Regions from separate parts of the Homo sapiens genome. Here region 2 is linked to region 1. Evidence: fine-mapped expression QTL. A gene starts in region 1. The other region holds a variant in brackets. All regions are shown on one strand. Distances are between the middles of the regions. Region 1 holds the start of PDE4B (phosphodiesterase 4B). Region 2 overlaps PDE4B (phosphodiesterase 4B).

The links. PIP is the estimated chance that this variant, and not a neighbour inherited with it, causes the effect.
Region 2: its variant is fine-mapped to the expression of PDE4B in whole blood (TOPMed, PIP above 0.99).

The regions. Positions count from the first base shown.
Region 1 is chr1:65,786,669-65,800,110 of GRCh38, reverse strand. PDE4B (phosphodiesterase 4B) reads right to left here and starts at 7,216. Exons shown (of 17, transcript NM_002600.4): 1 at 6,863-7,216.
Region 2 is chr1:66,323,201-66,331,200 of GRCh38, reverse strand. The region is part of intron 7 of PDE4B (phosphodiesterase 4B); the gene reads right to left. Among named protein-coding and RNA genes, the nearest start is that of SGIP1, 210 kb to the left of the region's middle. The variant T/G (reference allele first, on the strand shown) is at 3,139.

The DNA of each region.
Region 1 (13,442 bases):
GTGCTTTTGTTTTTACCCTTAGAAAAATCCCCCCAGTATATACAGCAGATGCTGCTTTAATCTTTCTTTTTTCAGCCCTTAACATTTGATATAGGTGAAATTGGTTTTAAATGACCACTAAAGCAATCTTATCAGAAAAAGAATGATCTCAAAAGGACACTGTTTCTCCATATAGTAAGAAGGTGAGAGCAGAAAGAAACAGATGGAGAATCTTTCTAAGGAATCTTAATATATGTTGTAAGTGTATGTGTGTGTGTTATGGGGGAGGAGAGAGCAAGCACTGTGGGCTGAGTTCCCTGTTTGTATTTCGCACAGTCAGTCTGTTTGAACACCTGCTGGTCCTGCTACATCCTTCTCACCTACTGCCACTCTAGAATCTGCAGGGAGACAAATCCTGCAGTATACCAATGTAGCATGCCCAGGACAACTGTCACCATCCACAGGCCTTTAAGGCTGACCCAGACTATAAAATAAGTCATTATCCCTATCACTTTCCCCAACAAAGACAATCCACAGTTAGTGCATGAGTATAACACAAAACAGTATCTGGAGGTCTTTCCTAGGAATCCATAAATACTTAATATTGAATGCAAATTTTTGACTATATGTTCATTTTTCTGGATAATTAATCCATATGTCCCTCAGATTTTCAAACAAGCCTATTTTTATTTAAAAAAATCATGTCCTCCCAACTTATTGAAGTAGTTTTTCTTGTTAAAAAAGGGGTACTGAGAGATTATACCTCAAAATAAATTTTTAATAAGCCTTCTCAAAGGAAGGCAATTCTGATTTCTTAAAGAAAATATCAAATTAGGAAATTCTAAGAACTCAGAATAAACAAGCCCTGCCATCACTGAACTGAAGGAACTTAGATTTCCTTATGGCTTTTTAACATGTCAGTTTTCTAAAATATAAAACAATAAGGTTGAAATAGGTGATCTCTAAGATCACTTTCAGTTCTGAAAATGCCATAATTCTATGAGTCAGCACTGTGATATACTAGGAGAGCCAAAGACAGAATCCTGGTATCTGCTCCTTAATCCATTCAAAATATCAGCAAGTTGCTTATGGAAATAATGTCATTTACTTTCTCTAAGGTTAAAGTGTCCACAGGATAAAGGATTTTTTAGCCTTTCCCACAAAGATGGCAATAAATAAGAAGTACTAATATTTTTCAAATGCATTAAGATAACTTGAAAAAAAAATGTTCCATAGAGTAAACGTCACATACCAAGATTTTTGTCTTAGACTCTACAGACAGGGTATGATTTGACATTTAATTCTGTAATTACAGTAATATTAATTAACTTAATTTAAATAAGCTATCTTGAACTAAGGTTTAAACTATGTCTCCACACCTAACAGATATATATTACAGGGAAATACAATCAAACTAGTATTTTCAATGATAGTAATGGATAATGTGGTTGAGGATTTAAACTAGAGTGTTTTTAAAAAGCCGGGTGCAGTGGCTTACGCCTGTAATCCCAGCACTTTGGGAAGCCAAGACAGGTGGATCACTTGAGGTCAGGAGTTCAAGACTAGCCTGGCACGGCCGGGCGCGGTGGCTCACGCCTGTAATCCCAGCACTTTGGGAGGCCGAGGCGGGTGGATCACGAGGTCAGGAGATCGAGACCATCCTGGCTAACAAGGTGAAACCCCGTCTCTACTAAAAATACAAAAAATTAGCCGGGCGCGGTGGCGGGCGCCTGTAGTCCCAGCTACTCGGGAGGCTGAGGCAGGAGAATGGCGTGAACCCGGGAAGCGGAGCTTGCAGTGAGCCGAGATTGCGCCACTGCAGTCCGCAGTCCGACCTGGGCGACAGAGCGAGACTCCGTCTCAAAAAAAAAAAAAAAAAAAAAAAAAAAAAAAGACTAGCCTGGCCAACATGGTGAAACCCCATCTCTACTAAAAAAAATACAAAAATTAGCCAGGTATGGTGTTACACACCTGTAATCCCAGCTACTTGGGAGGCTGAGGCAGAAGAATTGCTTGAACCCGAGAGGCAGAGGTTGGAGTGAGCCGAGATGCACCACTGCACTCCAGCCTGGGTGACAGAGCGAAACTCCATCTCAAAAAATAAATAAATAAATAAATAAATTTTTAAACATTTTTAAAATTAAAAAATAAAAATAATGCAAGGGGCATCCCAAGGAGGACTGAGAATGGTGGCAAGAGGGAAATGGACTGCTTAGTGACCTCTAGGCTGGAGGAACAGTAGAGCAATAGAGCAGTGGATGTCTTCCAACTCTCTATTCAACAGCAGATTACCCAGGCCCAGAGTCTCCCGACTCCTAACCTAGTAGTAGGAAATGATCTAGGTAGGCTCATTCCTTGTCTGCATCTAACTGGGGTCCATTTGACAATACTAGGTGGCCTCAGAGCACTGGCACCAGGAATCCTGCCACAAGTTCCAGGTCTAAGAATGCTCCTTATTTCTGCAAGGCTGAAAGTCACTTAGAGACACTTCTCTAACCTAGAGGCACAACAGGGCCTGGCCTGGGGAGGCTTCTTCTTCCCCTTCAGGTGGCACCAGCAGCGTTCAGTGGGAGCCCCGGAAGCACCAGACAAACCAGGCAGACTAACAGCACCTCAAAGCCTCTAGAAATTAAATTGTCATTGAAACCACTGCCCACAAAAGTAGGCCAGGATCTGTGTGTTACCCTAAACAGAGTGATTATCTGTTAAAATACAAGATTTAAATAGAAACCCAGAGCCTTCTAACACAATAGCTAAAATGTCCAAAATATGACCACAACTTGAATGAGAAAAGACAATCAAGTGACACCAACAATTAAGTGAATCAGATGTTGGAATTATCTGACAAAGATTACAAAGCATTTATTCTAAAAATGTTGGCCGGGCGCAGTGGCTCACACCTGTAATCCCAGCACTTTGGGAGGCCGAGGCAGGTGGATCACGAGGTCAGAAGATCGAGACCATCCTGGCTAACATGGTGAAACCCCGTCTCTACTAAAAAATACAAAAAAATTAGCCAGGCGTGGTGGCGGGCACCTGTAATCCCAGCCACTCAGAAGGCTGAGGCCAGAGAATGGCGTGAACCTGGGAGGTGGAGCTTGCAGTGAGTGGAAATAGTGCCACTGCATTCCAGCCTAGGCAACAGAGCGAGACTCCATCTCAAAAAAAAAAAAAAATGTTTCAGGCTAGACACGGTGGCTCAAGCCTGTAATCCCAGCACTTTGGGAGGCTGAGGCAGGCAGATCATGAGGTCAGGAGATCGGGACCATCCTAGCCAAAATGGTGAAACCGCTTCTCCACTAAAAATACAAAAAATTACCTGGGCATGGTGGCACGCACCTATAGTCCCAGGTACTCAGGAAGCTAAGGCAGGAGAATCGCTTGAACTCAGGAGGCAGAGTTTGCAGAGAGCCAAGATCATGCCACTGCACTCCAGCCTGGGTGACAGAGTGAGACTCTGTCTCAAAAAAAAAAAAAAAAAAAAAGTTTCAGCAAGCAAATACAAATTCTCTAGAAACTAATGAAAAAATAGAATGTCTCAGCAAATAAGCATAAGCTGCAAAAAGAACCAAATGGAAATTATTGAGTTGAAAAATATAGTAATCAAAATAAAATACTAGATGGGCTCTGTAGTAGAGAAGACAGAGGACAGAATCAGCGAACTTGAAAACAGACCAATGAATGTTTTCTATTTGAACAAAGAGAAAATACCAGAAAAAAAAATGATGAACCAAGCCTCGGGGTCTTGTAGGACAACAACAAAAGATCCAACTTTCATATCATCAGAGTCACAGAAGCAGATAAGAAAGAGAGTGGGGCTGAAACACTTTTGTGTTTGAAGAAATAATGCCTAAGAATCTCCCAACTTGGTGAAAGACAAACCTACATTTTAAAAACTTCATCAAATCCCAAACAGAGCAAACCAAAAGAAATTCATGCCAAAACACATCATAATCAAACTTCCAAAAAATGAAGATATAGAAAATATTCTTGAAACTCTCCAGAGAGAAATGACGCATTGTGTATAAGGGAACGTCAATTCAAACAACAACAAATTTCTCATTGAAACCAGGGAGGCCTGAAATGAAGTGACATAACATTTTTCAAGTGCTGGAAGAAAAAGAAACTGTCAACTATAAATTCCTTCCACATATGCATCTTCTATATCATATTTGATGGTTGAAACACCACATTTCAAAAGACCAATGGATTAAAACTGGCAAAATGAATGTATGGGGTAAGAACATAGTCACAGGTGGGTTTCCCTGGCAAGCTAATTCTGAAATGAAGTTCAAAGCCCTATTTTCTTGGGAACCGCCTTGTTATCCACACCTGAGGAAGGATGGGGAAGGAAACAGAAAGGACCAAAGAGAGAAGTAGAGCTGCAATGCAAGCCCTCAGGGAGCTCCAGAGCTAGAAAGATCCTTCAGAGTTTTCCAGAGTTGTGCTGCAATGGCCCAACCTTTATACTCCCACATGGATCAGCCATTGGATGTGAGCTGCGCTGGAAAGGGGTGTGACCTTGGACAAGGGAGCTTTCTACAGCTCAGGCAATCCCTGAAGAGTCTGACTATTGAAGGCCATCTGTTGACCACACTCCCAGAAGCTGGGGCAACAAGTCCCTCCTTGAAGAACGATTTGGCACATCACAGTGTCCACTGTATTACCACATGGTGGCTACAATAGCCAGTGCCTGAAGGAACTCATTTGTTTTGTGGTCAGCAACATCCTAAACCTTGTCCAAACTATGCTGTTTGAAGGTTTTTGGAAATAGAAATGGGTGAAATTGTATGACATGATAATAAATTACTAACCACCAAATCTTTCTAACTGAAGACCTCTTCATATACCTCTTGCTCCTTAGCCAAATTAAGTCAAGTAAGATATTAGGAGTAACCTAGAACTCTTTATTTCTTCACAATTTTAAATATTGCATTTGTAAACCAAAATGGAATTATTATTTCTGTGTCCAGTATCTTTATCAAACAAGCCTTTATTTGTACATACACAGTAACTATTACTGTTAAATACTTAAATACCTGTCTCTAGACAGGCAAAGGACTCCAAGATCAGAAAACCATGTATGATTGATTTCTTATTCCTCAAATCAAAAAACAGTCCTATTTTGAAAGCAAACAGTATGTCTAACAGGTTACTCTCTAGAGAAATTTAAGACAATTCATTTTTGCAAAATATGTCAAGCCATAAAGAAACTGAAAAGCAAATCAGCTGATAAAAATACAAGTAGACACACTGCAACATTGTTTAGCTCCCAACTGTAACAAGAAAAATAGAAAGATGATAGATATATAGATAAACAGCCTCAATGCATCGATCATGCCATCTCATAAATTCCAGTCCATTTAACAATCTTACTTATTTTTTGTAAATTAACAAAATTGGCACGTTGTTGTTTAGAAAATGAAAAAGAATAGAAACAGCCAGCAAACATATTACAGTCAAGTCCTACAAGTATTGATTTGAAGAGCTGAAGAGACCAATGCTATATTTATTGACATTAAGGGGATTTCTCTCTTGGGATACCAAGAAATGAGGTATCCTGAGAGAGAAGAAGCTCAACTTCCTTTACCTGCAGTGAAATCATTGGCCTTATCTATCTTCTTGTGAATTCATGTACAGATAAATTCTAGACCCCTACCTACACTTCAGGTTGTAGGTAAAAACACTGAAATCTCCAAATTTGTTTCGTTTTTATGAATATAATTGGTATAATAACAGCTTTTGGCAAAAGGAAACGGAGGGGGAGTATGATCTACTAATAAAAATAGTATCTGGACATTTATTACTTTTTTTATGCTTAATGTGCCTTTCATTCTTATAACTTAGCCAAGAGTTTTCCAGCAGCTGGAAATCTTTGAAATTAAACGATGCATGTGATTCAAAGAACAGTTATATCTCAGATCTAAGATGCAGAATGCATAGAGTTACCATTTCTGTTCAGTGGCATCATATAATTATGATGTAAACCTAATGTAAGTACAATGTAATTTTAGGTGACCGTCTCAAAGTCTTGCTAAAAATTATCCCAGGCACGTGTGTGACACACACAGACACACACACACACATATATAACTACTGTAATTAAGAGCGATTCTTCTGTGCGCTCCTCCTTATACACGCTTTAAAGCTGTTGGCCATAGTGGGTTCCGATTTGTGTTTGAAGTACCGCACAAGGAAGGTGGCCTGTGAAAAACGGGAAGGAAGGAGGCAAAACAGGAAGATGGAAGAAGAGAGTAGGCATGAAGGAAAGTGACAGGAGAAAGGAGGAGAGCCTCTTCCTTCCCCAACACACTCTTGTAGCTAGAAAGGTCCAAGCCCCCTCACCAAACACCAGACAAATCTTCCCAAAAGTTCCTGGCAGAGCCTTGGTGATGCCGAGGCTTGAGTGCGCCCCTCCTTGGTGCCCCAGCCACCAGGGCACGCAGGAGCATCCTGGAGCCTCAGCCCAGCAAACTCTTGGGTAGTTCAGGTTCCCTTCCGCGCCCGCTGCCTGCAGTCAATCACTGGGCACCGCGCGCCCATCCGTCACCTACTCCAGGGCTTCCAAGCCCTGAATCCTTCTGCCTCTCTCCATTCTCCCTTAGCCTCTCTCCATCCTCTCCTCCCCAGTGACTTGTCAAGAGGTCCAAGGGCGGAAGCCGAAGCAGAGAAGATGAGGGCGAAAGGCTAGGGGCCGGTTGGCGGATTTCCTACAAGGGGCGACAATGACGCCGTCAAGACGACCATCCAGGCCCGGCGGCCCCATTCCCTCTTTGCCCCACATCAGCCCCACAGCACCCTACACTCTCCATTGAGGCTTCAGTGTGTGATGAAGTAAGAGAATGAGGAAAAATAAACCCGCAGCCTCCTAGGCAGCCCTTACCTCAGGCTGCCCTCGCAGAAGCCGCCCTCCTCCTGCCCGAGGCGCCTCTGCTGCACCGCCGCGGCCGCAGCGCTCTGGACGCCGGGGCTCCGCCCGGCGCGGGTAGACCATGCGCTGCGAGTGAGCCTTCCGCGCTCCCGGGGGTGGGGGACGAAAGTCTGCCCGGAGGGCGCTCGCGTGCAGCCCGGCCCGCGACGAAGAGCCTGCAGCCGCTGAGGCGAGGCCAGGAGCCCCGGGAAGGGGCGCGCGGGCCGGGGGCGCGCGCGCGGACGGGCCAGCGGGCTAGCCTGGGGAACCCGCGCCAGGGAGACACAGGCGCTGGCGACGCGCCCCTCAGCTCTTCTCTCGTCCTCTGGCCCTTTAAACCCCCTCTCCCTACTGTCCACCCCCGCCCCCCGGAAGAGAGACAGCTCGCCGGTGCCACTTGGTCTGCCGCGCTGCGCTCCTCAGCCGGGTGCGGGGAATAACAATGTGACCGTATCGCACGGACGAGATGCTGTGTAGTAGGTTGTAACTGCTGAGGCCACCACCTGTCAATTCTAGGGTGCAAAGCACGCCGTCCCCAGTCGTCTGGCCTCTCCCTGATTGCCCTCCCAGGTTATTTTTTCCCCCACCTACCTCACAGACCTCCTGCAATATTCCGCGGGCACGGTACCAGGGGAGTTTTGCAAAATAACCCTCTCTCCCAGCCGGGAGCTCACTGCATCTCCCTTACCACCAGAGCTGAAGGATTACGCACAGCCCTGCGTGCCTATCCAAAGCCAGAGACCGAAAATCCTGGTTTGAACCCCACACTCGCCGGCCCCCCAGCCCCCATTCATAATCCCAGCGGCCGTCTGCCACTACACACCCTCCCCCGGCCGCCCGCGCTCTTTCCCATTCGCCGTCCCTGGAACGTGTCAGTCACTCGCTGTGCATCTGCCATGAATACAAGACGAAGAGCTCTGCAGCTACTGGCTGCACAAAGAGGGACTGGGGCGCAGGGGACGCAGACCCCCGGGTTGGGGGAGGCGAGAGAGCCAGCGGGGCACATTACGTGGAAGGAGCCAGTGGGACCGTGGGAGTCCTCTGGTCTCCTGTTGCACAAAGGAGCGCCAGAGTGAATACGCGCAGTGCTCCTGAACCAACAGGTCAGATCACCTCCCAAGAGGTGCTCCACCAAGACACCCCTGAAGGTGAGTCCCACAACTTGGGAATTCGTGTGATGGAGCAACAGGCACTCAGTAACCTGACTGAGCCTGCTTTAAAAATGCAACAGGATGGAGAGAGAGCGAGAGCGAGAGCGAGAGAGAGAGAGAGAGAGAGAGAGAGAGAGTGTGTGTGTGTGTGTGTGTAGAGTGGGAGAGGTATGCTGGAAAGCACAAGTTTCCTTTTCCCCGGTTGTCCAGCCCTTTCAGTCAGAGAAAAAAAGAAGGAAGCTGGCAAGGAAAAGAGGAGGAAGATAGGCATGAAGTAACTTTGCCTATCCAACTACTACAGTAGCTAGAGACCAAAATGACTTTAATAGACAACATTCGCCTGTTTCTCGATTTATTCCAATAAACATCATGCACACCTACTGTGCACTGAGCACTTTGCAGAAGCTAAGGATGCAGAGTCGATTAGGACATAGTCTCTGCACCCAAGGAGCTCACTGCCTAATAGGAGAACCAACTATGAAAGCCCGAGACAAACAACACAAGTATTTCACAACAGAAGCACATGCCAATTGCATAAGTGGAAGCAATTTTTTCTATGTAAGAGAAGGAACAGGTCAGGGAATTTAAATCCCATCTGAACTGTGTATTAAAGGACAAATAGGGACCTCCCAAAGAAGGGCAATAACCTAATAACCTACTATTCACCCATTCACCCAAAATAGCTTTACATGCCTGTACATTGAAAGGCATGTCTAAGAGCTTATCAGTGTAGGAACTTAATGAACTTTCCCCTTCATGGTTTTGGAGGAAACATATTCAAACACTAGCGTTTGGAGTATAAAACACCTATTTCCCCACATCTGAGATGCTACCAAGTGTTCGCTGGTTATTCTGCCTTTTTGGACCTGTTGCTTACACTATACCATCTACCTCATCCATAACCTTGAAATTGAGCCCAAAGCCAAAATTAATAATAGTGAGGCAATAAGCACCTGAAAGGAAGCCAACAAAATCCGCAATGTAGTCATTGTTCTCACAGTTTTCATCTGTAAAATGATGATAATGGAATCTCTTTTTCTGAACTACAGTTAGGATTAGTTAGATGTATTAAATATAAGGCAACCATTGCCTAAAGAGAGTGTAAGGAATCTAAATTGTAGTTCAATCTAGGGGAAAAAAAGAACCAATTTGAGCATCATGCTGCCCCTTTTTGAATATGAGAAATTTGAAAGGTATTAATAATTACTAAGCCTCCCAAGGTTATTACATCATCTTCAGAAAAATGTGTCCAAAGAGTTCTTACTGCAAAAAGAATTATATACGGATTCCAGTAGAAAATGATGTCAGCTTTTTAAGCATCTTTCTCATCTCTTTCTAAAAATTACATAAACTAACAAAGAGAATGGAAAAAAACTGTCAAACACCATTTTCAACAAATTTATATAGATTTTACCTACAAACCCCAAAGCGCTTCTAAAGGTTACCAAAAGCAGCTGAGTTTGGGCAGAAGTCATATGGAAAAGGCCCAGGGAGAGGCAATGGGAACCAGCACTAGAAGTATCAGAAAGTGCCAGCAAAAGTATGTTTTCTGGGAAATGAGAGGTGTGTCGTAAAATGCAAAGCTGTCTCTCAAAAACTGGAGCAGAAGCAGAAGGAAGAAGGCAAAAGAGATACATACATACAGATGACAAAAGGAGAACAGGGAGTTCCCAGAAACATGGTAGGAGCAGATCTCAGGGTCAGCAAAACTTTAGTGCTTGAAGATGGTCAAATCACTATGAAATGTAAAAGTCCTGTTCCTTCTTTTTAAGAACTGGGGAGCAGAGAACTACTGGAAAAGGATCTTCTGGACATAATTCCCTTCAGAGTCTCAGAGGAAGTGAGTATACAAAGATGCCATAACTACTAAAAGCAGTCTGTTTGTGAGGCAACAGTAAAAGTGAATCCATAATCTATTGCTGCATAACAAGCCACCCGAAACAATGGTTTAAAAAGCTACCAGTGATTTGCCTACAATTTAGTGAGATGGAAAATTGGGATGGGCTCAGCTGTGTGGGCTCAATGGCTAATCTCTGCCCCATGCGGTATCAGCAGGTCTTACTCACAAATCTGGGCCTCTGGAAGGGATGGCTTGGACACCTAGGGCCTTTTCCCAGGAAGCTAGTCAGGCTTTTTCACATGGAGGTAGACATGTTCCCAGTAGCAAGAGAAATGGCAGCCTAGTGTTCATGCTGTAGTGTTCACACACTTTCAAGTTTCAAGCTTCTGTATGTGTTGTGTTTGTTAATGTCCCGTTGGCTAAAGCAAGTCATGTAGCTAAGTCCAGAGTCAATGTGGGAGTATTTTATGGGCATGGGTAGAGGGAGGTGTCAATTATTGGGGATCATTAAGTGGGAGCTATTTGTTTTGAGAACAGGAAAGCCACTTTGCAACCTCCACTTCAGGAACTTTCTCTAAGGAATTTGACCAGAAAAATAATTCATTCAATAGTGAGCAGTGATAAAGAAGAAACTGGCATAACACAGATACAGACATACTATTTTTAAAATTCAGAAAATTAGCATCAAAACTTTTTAATAGATGAGAGGAAAAAGTGTTGTCACAGAGACAATTAAAATTGTGACTATAAATTTCGAAATGCAAGAAAAAAACTAATAATACTTTAGCATAGTATTTACTGTTGCCAGGCAATATTCTTACCACTTTGTAGAGATATGAACTCAACTGATTCTCAACACAACTCTGTAAATTAGATATTGTTATTATTATTACCATTATATAGATTTAAAGACCTAAGGGACAAGTTAAGTAACACTCAAGATCACACAGTTAGAGGAAGACCCCGTATTTAAACACAGTTAATCTTGTTCTAGAGTCTTTGCTCTTATTCATAAGCAGCATAGTTTCTCTAAATTAAGCATATTTGTTGATATGTTAAGAAATAAACATCATCTATTAAGGAAAACCAAAAGGCACAAATGAAGAAACTCAAGAGAGAGATGAGGAGGATGAAATTAGTTGATTTTTTTAGCAGAAAGAAGAAGAAAAGCAAACCATGACAGAAATGAAGACAATATTGGAAGAAATACAAAAAAGGACTAAGTATTGCAGATAAGTAAGACATAGCAAATAAAAGTATTTGTGTGAAACTGATAATGATAGATGAAATACAACACACATATAATTGGAGTCTCTAAAGAAGAATGGGTGCAGCACACCAGCATGGCACATGTATACATATGTAACTAACCTGCACATGTTGCACATGTACCCTAAAACTTAAAGTATAATAATAATTTTAAAACAAAAAAAAAATCACCCAGAAAAAAAAAGAAGAAAACCTTATCAGTGGAACAGAGCAAATGTTTAAGCAAAATTTTTAAAAAACTTTCTTGAAACTGATAAAAAAAAGACTTCAATCTACATGTTCAAAATAAATACCATGTAGTAGAAAAAAATGATTCATGATGGTTGAACAAAGAAATATACTAACAAATTATTGAGTTTTATATATATGTAAGGAACCTTTGAAGCAGAAAAGAAAAAAAAATCAATTCTTGTAGAAAGAAAAAGAAATCAACCTACCCTCAGTCTTCTTGAAAGCAACATTCAAAGCCTAATGACAATGGGCTTTTGTTCCAATGAGAATGGAAACAAAACTTATTATATTCTCATGAAAAAAAATAATGATCTAAGGATTTTATATCTGGCTAGTTATTCATCATATATAAATGTCATATTTTTAAACATTAAAACTCAAAGAATATTCCTCCCATAAGGGGATATACTAGAATAAAAAAGGGAAAACTTTCTCAAAATGACTGGTGGTGAACACCAAATATATTTTTACTGTAAAACTAATACTACAAAAAATGTTTGAATGTTATAGGTTTTGAAAATATAGAAATGACACAAATCACAAATGTTAGGAAGGGAAAGAAAAAAGATGGTGGTAATTAGAATAAGTTCATTGACTGACTCACCTGTAACTGTTGAGGTTGAAAATGTCATTTAAAGCTGACATACAAGTAGTAGAGTAAGCACGCATAACATAAAAAGATAAACACTAAGAAATGTAATTTTTAAACAAAATATGACAGCTGATAAAATGCAGTATAGGAAAAAGAAGAGGATACATACCAATTTATCATTGCTCATAACTGTTATATCCAAAACAATAGAGAATATGAGTATATAAAGATGGAATTATAAAGGTAGCAGCTGGAGAGCAAATTTGCACCTTAGTGCACACCTTGTTAAATGTCAGAGGAACCATAAACTCATGCGCATGTGTATAATCACACACGTATCCATGTATATATCAAAGAATTGTGACAAATATTTTTCAATCAATACACATTTTAAGCTATTTTTTAAAAGCATTTTCAAATTGCATTAAAACCAAAACTCCATGCTATATATAAGTACACATTGGAAAAAAAAGGTTCAGATGGTTGAAAATTAAAGGAAGAGCAGAGTTTTACCCAAATAATGCCCCTGCACATTCCCCCCACCCAAATACATGGAAAAGGAATAATAATAATATAGCAGTACTTATGACTTTAATTTCAGACAAGTTGGACTCAGGACAAACAAGTATTAAATAAAACAAAGAAAAGCACTTTATGATAGAAAAAGTAAAAATCACAATGAAGATGTGAAATTTATAAATATCTATGAACCAAATACATAGCAGAAATTTGTATATACAAGTTTTATTACAAGAGATATAAAGACATATGGAAAGTAACAGACCAAAAATAGGACAGTTTTACTCATCTCCCTCAGTCAAACTCTACATATATCAGACTTTGTGCCTCAAAAGTAGAGATTACATATTCTTTTTAAGGGCTAATATTATATTCATAAAAATTGCCATTTATTAAACCATAAAGATAAAATGCAAAAATAGGAAATTATGGACAACACTATATGATCACAATTCCATAAAAACAGAAATTAATAGAAAAATCAGAAAAATAAAAATCTTTCCACGTGAAAATTCTAAACAAAAAACTCTCTTAAATAACTTTATGAACAAAAATTGTAGGATTTCTTGAAAATAATGAGGTATGAAAACACTACTGAATAGAATTCCGTGATACAGCTTAAGCTTAATTCATGAATTATGCACCAACTCAAAAAGTTAGAAAAACAACTATTAAATAGAAGAAAACTAAAAAATATTAAACAATTTAGAAGAATTAATAAATGAGTTAAGAAAGGAAGGTGATTAGAGCTAATGTGTAATTTGAAAAGCCAGCCTTTTTAATATTTAAAATAATTGTTAAATTAATAAAAAAAATAAATACAAAGTAAGAAATTATAAGGGGTTAAACATAGAAATAAAGAATGTTAATATAATTCTAAAGACTACTTTAATCTGTTATAATGTTCTTCAACCATTTTTTCATTTTTGCTTCACAAGAAAATTTTAATTT
Region 2 (8,000 bases), 530 kb before region 1:
TATACAGAAATTCTAGCAAGACCACATGGTTTTTAAAAATTATTATATGAATAATCTTATGTCTGTGGTGTGCAAATACTTGAAGCAGAAAAGAGAATCAACAGAACTGTGATTCCAAGTAACTGGAATCACTTGGCCACAGACGCATATTTCAAAGAATAGTTGCTTTGTTTATCCCCGAAATATTCATACACTTCAAGATAAACAGGGGTTAAATTCAATATCCTGTATGTCATGCTTAAAAAGCCACAAAACCACTGGAGGTAACTTCCTCCATTTTTTTTTCACACTCTTCAAAAATGTGCAGACAAGAATTGAGGTGTTTTTAATAAAACTCATTTCAAGCCAGACTTACACATACCTTCCTTCCTTTCTTCATCTTCAATTTTGCAATGCTGCCTCAACACGAAGATTCTCTGACTTACTCTCTAGTGTGTCCGAAACAACCCCTTGCCTCCTCTGTTTGCTTCCAGAAGAGCACTTCTTCCAAGGAAGCCTTTTCTGAAGAGACAGAACCCTCCCATTCTCATTCCCTGCCTCTAATAAAGGAAAAAGTCCAACCACTTCCCAGCTGCTGGGGATTTACTACCTTCATGTCTTCCACATCACAACCTGTGGTTCTCTGTAACTAATATTGGACATTCACCAGGACGGTGGGGAGAAAGTAGCTTGCTCCTAGCCTTTTGAATCCACTGATATGCAAAATGACTGCAAGATGATACATCACATTTCTCCTTCATGCAGAGGAAAAAAGGGATCTGATTTCTATTCAAGCTTGACCAAGGAAATACATACAGTAATTATACCCGCAGAAGTACAAAAAAGAGAAGGACTCTTCAAAGATACACCAGTGAGCTCATTCATTGTCTACTGCATGGAACAAGCACTCAGGTACTTCTAGAGTTGGTACAACGTGAGATGTGGGTGAACAGGTAATGGATATGAAGAGACCTTGCTCCATTGTCCTCTCTTCTTCAGATCAGCCATCAAAATGTTTAAGCAAAAATTAATACATTTTGAAGCAATGTTAGTTAGGCTAGAGTATCACTTTCCAAATTCTTAATTCACAGTCAAGACTTTGTGTCCACTTTATAGTCTTCCTATCATGGCAACTAAGCCATGGGCACAGAGGTTAGAGTGTACTAAATAGGGGGATATCAAACACCTGCTACCTATGAATGCAATCAAAGAAAATGACCAGAGCAGCGCAGGACTGGCCTCCCTGATATAACTTTGTAGTTTTAGCACCTAGGAGATACTCAGTAAATAATTGGAGGAATGGAAACCAAATTGCCTAAGCATCCTACAAATACCTGGGCACCTGAAGGCTGAATGGTCCATCTGTAGCACTGTGAAAAAAAGCACCAGATTTGGAGTGAGAATCATGAATATTGACTTTCTCTTCTACCACTTACTGTGTGGTCCTAGACCTCAATTTCATACATCTGTAGAAGAAGGATAAAATATTTATCTCATAAAGTTATAAAGGGATTAAATAAGATAAAATATATGAAGTGCCTAGGATGGTAGCCAGTTCTTAGTAGGTGATAGATGCATAGGAGAATTACTAATGGCAATTGGAGAAATCCTAAGGCCTGGCATTGAAGGGTAGAAAAGAGTGTGAGGAAGAAAAGAAAGAGAGATAGCTGAATTGCACATTCAATAAGGGATTTTACAGTAAGAATCAGCTGCATAATTTGAAAGGCCCAGTACAAAATGAAAGTGCAGGGCCCCTTGTTGAAAAAGCAGTAAAATTGCTATAAAAGATACTAAAATATAAAGTTTTTTCCTTTCTTCTGCATTCTCTCTTTCAACTTGTCATGGTGGTTTTTTCTTCATATACTTTTTATTTTAAAATACTTTCAGACTGACGGAAAAATTGCAAAGATAACACAGGGGCTTCCCACATATCCCACATCCTAATTTCCCCATTGTTAATGTCTTACATTATTATGGTACACTTGTCACAATTAATGGTTTGGTGTGTTTAAATATTGTATTATTTCAGGCACTGGGATACCTTGAGGTGAGTGCAGACCCTCACAGCAACCTGAAGGCCCTGCCTCTTATGACTAAGGGCACGCACATAGCTCACCAGCAGCTGGCTACTCCTTCCTGATAGCCGCCAGACTGACAAGCTGTGTCCCCACCAGGCACAAGAGCTGGGGAAGTCGAATTAGGTATTTCTCCCTTCTCATGGTCCCCAAGCCCCTATCCACAGCAGACAACCCCTTGGATCTTAGCATACTGCTAAGGGTACTGCAACCTCTTAGCAGGGACATGCTGGGTACCTGAAACAGGGGTGGACAAGAGGTTCATCCCCATCAAGACCTGGCCTCTGTCTACCACAGCCATGCCAGCCCAGGGCAAAGACGGCTGCTAACATGTCCCATCTGAGGCTACAAAGCACATGTGGCTAACTCAGACCCTCCCTGTGCCTATACCCTGATTGGGGATGGAGGGCAGCAATGGTCACAAGTGCAGGTGGGAAAAAGGAAGCTGGACGATTCCTAGGGCACCAGCGAGCAGAGGAGAGGATGGTTAGGATCTTGTCCAGGGAGACAGGCAGGTGACAGGAAGTGAGGAAGTGCATGAGCCAAGGCTCCAAGCCACTGGCACATACTCCATTGTCCCATCAGACATCATTTATAAAACACAAGTTCAAAGATAGTATTATTACAAGTTTTAAGATGGCAAATATGGAGCCCTTCTGAGCATAGGGCCCTGTGCAACCCAACAGGTTACATGCCCATGAAACTGGGTCTCTTCCTGTCTTACATAAGATGGCCCTGAAAAGAAACAATGTTTAACACCACAGAAGCAAATCTCAGAGGCAGTAAGAGTAGGTCATGGGACCATGTATGGTCATGCAGTTGAACTTCGCTTTCAAAAACTTCCAGAGGGAAGAAGTAGGGAGAACCAACCTCCCTTCTCTTGCTCTCTTCTTTCCCTCTTTCACTCCAACAAGAGTGGCACAGAAAGATTTTCTTCCTTCTATAAGTTTGCTGGGTATTGCATTTGACTCTGAGAAACAGGAAGAGAAATTTAGTAAATAATTATAATATTAATCTGCTAATGATATATGGTATTCAAATAGCTCTTTTCTCAAAGGAGCTCCCAGCACACTATTCGTTAATC[T/G]TTGCAACATCTTTGTGTGATAGATACGGAAGTAGGATGATTATCTTATTTACCTTAAGGCATAAACTAAGAAATCAGAGATTAAATTATTAGAGCAAATAGTTCCCTCCAGATTCCTAGCAAGACTATATCTTGGTCTATGAAACAGAGGATTCAGTTTAGCACTGAAAGATGCACCTATTCCTGAAAATGCTGCATTTAAAGTTGCATCTTACCCTCGGATCTCTTCCATTTAAAATTGCATAACTGCTTTCCTAAATGTTGTCATTTCTGAAGTCTCCACTTCCCTTTTCTGATCTACCTAATGCACAGGGAAGCTGTGCAATATTTACTCAGAAGACCTGGTATGGTTCTTGTCCTGCATCTTGCTTCAGTGGGTTACCTTGGGTAAATTACCTATGTTCTCGAAGACTAAATTTATTTATCTCTAAAATGAGGATAAGAAAAATATCCTATTCTCATGGGAAAGGTAGAATCAGAGAATAAACACAAAAATGGACTGTAAACCTTTTAGTATTAAATATATTTTGCAAATATCTCATTTATTGTTACAGATGGGATATAGGCACATTTAGAAAAATAGAAAATTGCAGAGAAGCCAAAAATTCAAATGATAAAAAATCTCACATTTTTAGCAGTCAGAGATCACCATTGTTGACTCCTTTGTGCATGTCATGTATGTGTTTGTGTGTCTGTGTAAACATACATATGTATATAACATAAATAGGATCACATTGTACAAACTGCTGAGCAACATTCTTATTTTCAGTCAATGATCTTTTTATTTTTTTTCTGTTTCAATGATTTTTCAGTTAATCTAATACTTAGGTTCATAGACCAACTTCCCCAGCTTTTTAAATGCCAATCTAGTAGAAATGGGTGTGTGAGTTAGCAGAGTCCTGTTGGGAAGAGGGAGAGATCCAGAGAAGAGTGACAGGAAAGGGTAATTAGAAACCTCTGCCTGGCCACAAATAGCTAGTTGCTCATAGTTAGAAAACATGGGGACACATTTTAGCAGTTATGAAATCAGTGGCCCCACTGGTGAAAGACCTCAGGTGCCCTAAAAGCTGGCCCTGCAATCTGTGCAGGGAAGTGTAATCTTATGACTACACTGATCTCTTGGAAAAGTAGGCACAGGGGCCCTTTATGTATCTGGCATCATTTAACTTTGAAACCTTAAGTCTCATGGCTTGTAATACAGTTGAGAAAACTGAGGCTGAGAGGAAAAAATGCTCTGCCCTCAATTACACATGATTAGCAATTGAAAGCATCACAATATTACCCAAATATAAATTTCCTATAAATTATATCTAAATGATATTCCAACATATCTCTATATATCAGAAACTTATCTGTCAAGTCACCCACACTTTCTATCCACAGAAAGCACACAGAAAAGAGCTGTACATAACCTTTATGGGCCTCACATAATTGGACTCCCTTTCTATTAGAGAAGGTGGTAACTATTTGCAAAGTTATTCTAGTGGCTAAAACAATTGGACCAATTGCCACATGCAGCAACAGGAATGAATATCATAAACATAAATGTGGAACAAAGGAAACCAAATATTAAAATGTATATGAAAAAATAGTATGGGTCAAATTCCATAAAGTTCCAAAGAGGCAAAAACTAATCTATAGTAATAGAAGTCAAGATATTGGCTACCTTGTGGGCTTAGTGACCAGGAGGGACTTGAAGGGCTTTCTATAGGGTTGGCAATGATCTATTTCTTGGTCTGGGAACTGGTTACATAGGTATGTTCACTTTATAAGAACTCACTGATTTCTAAACTTGTGATTTGTGCACTTTGCTGTCTTTCTGGTTGTCCATGTAGGCTTTCAACAGATAGTCCCATCTAGGGGAAGCCCAGTTTAAAAAAACAAGAGCAGAATTTCTAAAAAACATTTCCTTTCCTTTTGTTTAGCTATAACAATGGGTATCAACAGAGTTTGAGTAAATCTCACATAGCTAAAAAACAACGACAAATGTTGGTTTTAATGTGACATAGACCAGGATGCCCTACTAACTCAAAATTCAGTGGAACACAGTAGAGTCTGCCCCAGCTGTTTATAAATCATAACTGTGCCATTTAATAGCAATGTGCCCTTAGACAAGAAAAGTAGCCCACTGTGCTTCCATTTCCTCACCTGTAAAACAGGAAGATAGTTTAAACTAGGTGTGAGAATTAAGTGAATCAGTATACGCCAAGCCTTTGGTACAGCATCCGGCACGTGTCAGGAACTTCTCCCCTCCTTCCCACCACTTCTCTGGTCCTGGGTCACTTTCCTGATGATATATTGACATGTATTTGACAGCTGAGTCATTGACAGAGTTTTGATTTGGCCCTGGGAAAGGAAGCATTTGTAAGGTTGGCCATGAAATCCTAAAGCGTCCTTCCCACTGTAGGACTTCAGAAAAATGCATTCTTGACATTTGTCTTAAGTTAGAGACTGTTGGTTTCCACTTCTAAAATATAGAGCTGACCTGATGGATCGTTTTTTCACAAAATTCTAACTGACATACCAGGTCAGTGGCCTTTCAGATGTGGAGAATTGTATAGGGAAGTTGTTTGTTCATTCATTCAGCAAAAGTACACTGAGCATCTGCTATGTGCCAAGCCTGCTGCTGGGTGGGTGCTGGATTACAGCAATGAACAATACACTTCAGGAGTGGTATTGTCCATTGTAGCGAATGATTATATTGGAAATCCCTTTTCCTTGTATAAATAGTAAGTCTGTGAAGCTAGGCGCCTTCTCAGCTTCCTCCCATAATCTTCTGATCTTTGTAAATGAGAAGTGTGTATTAATTGGATTATTTACATTCAGCTTTACTTTTAGCTTCATTCACAAGCTTCTAGCCCTGTAGATGTCTTACGTTTGGGTTGCTCCTATGGCTCTACATGCCTTTAAGTTAGCATACTTACTCCATTCTTCGGTTCCTTCCCATAGTGCAATAAGTACTTGATAAAATGTAAAATAGTTTCATACATATAGGAATTGGCATCTCTTTATGCAAAGGTGTTAGGTTGAGGCTACTGGCCTATTTATCTATTTATTTGGCAATCTTGGTTGTGATTTTTTCCCTTAGAGTTAGATATAATTTTTCTTCATCATGAGTTATTATGTCCAAATATATAATATTTGGTAAATGAAGCACACTCAGGTTAGAGTGCAACATTTCAAGAGGGCATGTTATTTTAACCTTGGGTAAAGTATCTATGGAACAAATCATAAGAACAGGAGAACATGTACACACTGCAATGCAATTCTTCCAAGACCAAAGTTTGCAAGCCCTATATAGCCTTTCTTTAGGCAGAACTTTGTTAGCATGTCTTTATAGATATGGAACTTTGCAATTGCATATGACAGGGATTTCACTCTGGGTGGATTCATAAAAGAAGAGGTTCACTGCCCTTAAGGGAAATAACAGTGAAAAGTAGGTCATTTTGATGCCGATCTCTTTAGCAAATTCCTCTAAGACTACAAGTAAAACAAAACTTCTAATCACAACTGGCTCTTATATATATAACTTGACAGTTTACCAAGCACTTTCACTTGCATATCTCATTTTTTTCCTTGAAAAATAACCCCAAGAGAGAAATTATTATCATTATGACATACATTTTCCATTATGAATGTGAGAAAATTGAGGCTTGGATGCATTTAACAATTTGCTCAAAGTGATATGATGCGGCTGGGAGGGAGGGAGGCAAAGAAGAAGGACAGAGAGATTGAGAGGGGAAGATGGGAAAAGGAGGGAGAATGAAGGAGACATTTTAATTATATTGATTGACATATTGATTCTAAATTCCATAACTTTTTTGCTAAACCACTGGGCCTGTTATAAATAAATGGTCTAAGTTTCTCTTTCTTTTACAGAGATAGGCTTAGTCAAGGCAAAACTATGTCTTTGATGTGCCAGCCTCATAGCACTGTTTCCTTTTGGTCTACCTCCCACTCTTTTAATGTCCTTACCCTTAGGAAAACCTGCTCTCCAGAACTCTGCCTTTGGCATTTATATGCTAACGAGAATCTGTTCTCATCCAGCTAAAACATGTACCACCAATGTGAAGGGATGTTCAAAGAACTTAATTATCTACCTGTATTGGTATTGAAGACCAATGACACAAGAAAGTGATAGGGATAGAGGCAAGCTGCTGTCCAATTATTTTTCTAACAAAGTAAATATATTGACAAAATATTTATGAAGGATATAGAGCAGTGATTAAAAGCTTGGTCTCTGGGGTTAGACTGCCTTGGTTCATATTCCAGTACCACCACTTACTGTTATAAAACTTTGTTACATAAGATGTTACTTCTCTGTGCCCCAGTTTCCTCATCTGTGTAATGAGAATAATAATAGTATCTATTTTAATGGGCTGTAGCATCTGGTTAACAAATAAATAAATGTAAAGTGCTTAGGACAGTGCATGGTACATTACAAGTACCAGATGAATGTTGGCTATTATTTATTGAATATGATACGATAAATAATTAATGAGTAAAATTTTTGAGTGCCTATTATGTTGTAGGCACATCATGAAACTCTAAGGGTATAGTGCTGAATATTAGGTTTTGCTTACTTGAAGCCTATATCCTAAGAGGAATAGAAAAATAATTATGCAAAAACTTAGTACAACTTGGAACAGAGATACTAAGAAGTGTAGAATGCTATAAACATTTATAATAGGGATAACCAGGGACCCAAAATCTGAAAAGTGGGATGTGAAGGAAGGCCTGCCTTGGAAAGTTATGAGATTTTGAGGAATAAGAATTAAGTGTCAAGGGAGAGGAAAGTATTCCAGGCAAGGGGAACATCAGAGTATGCTCATGAACGCAGACAGGGAAAGACTGATAGGAGA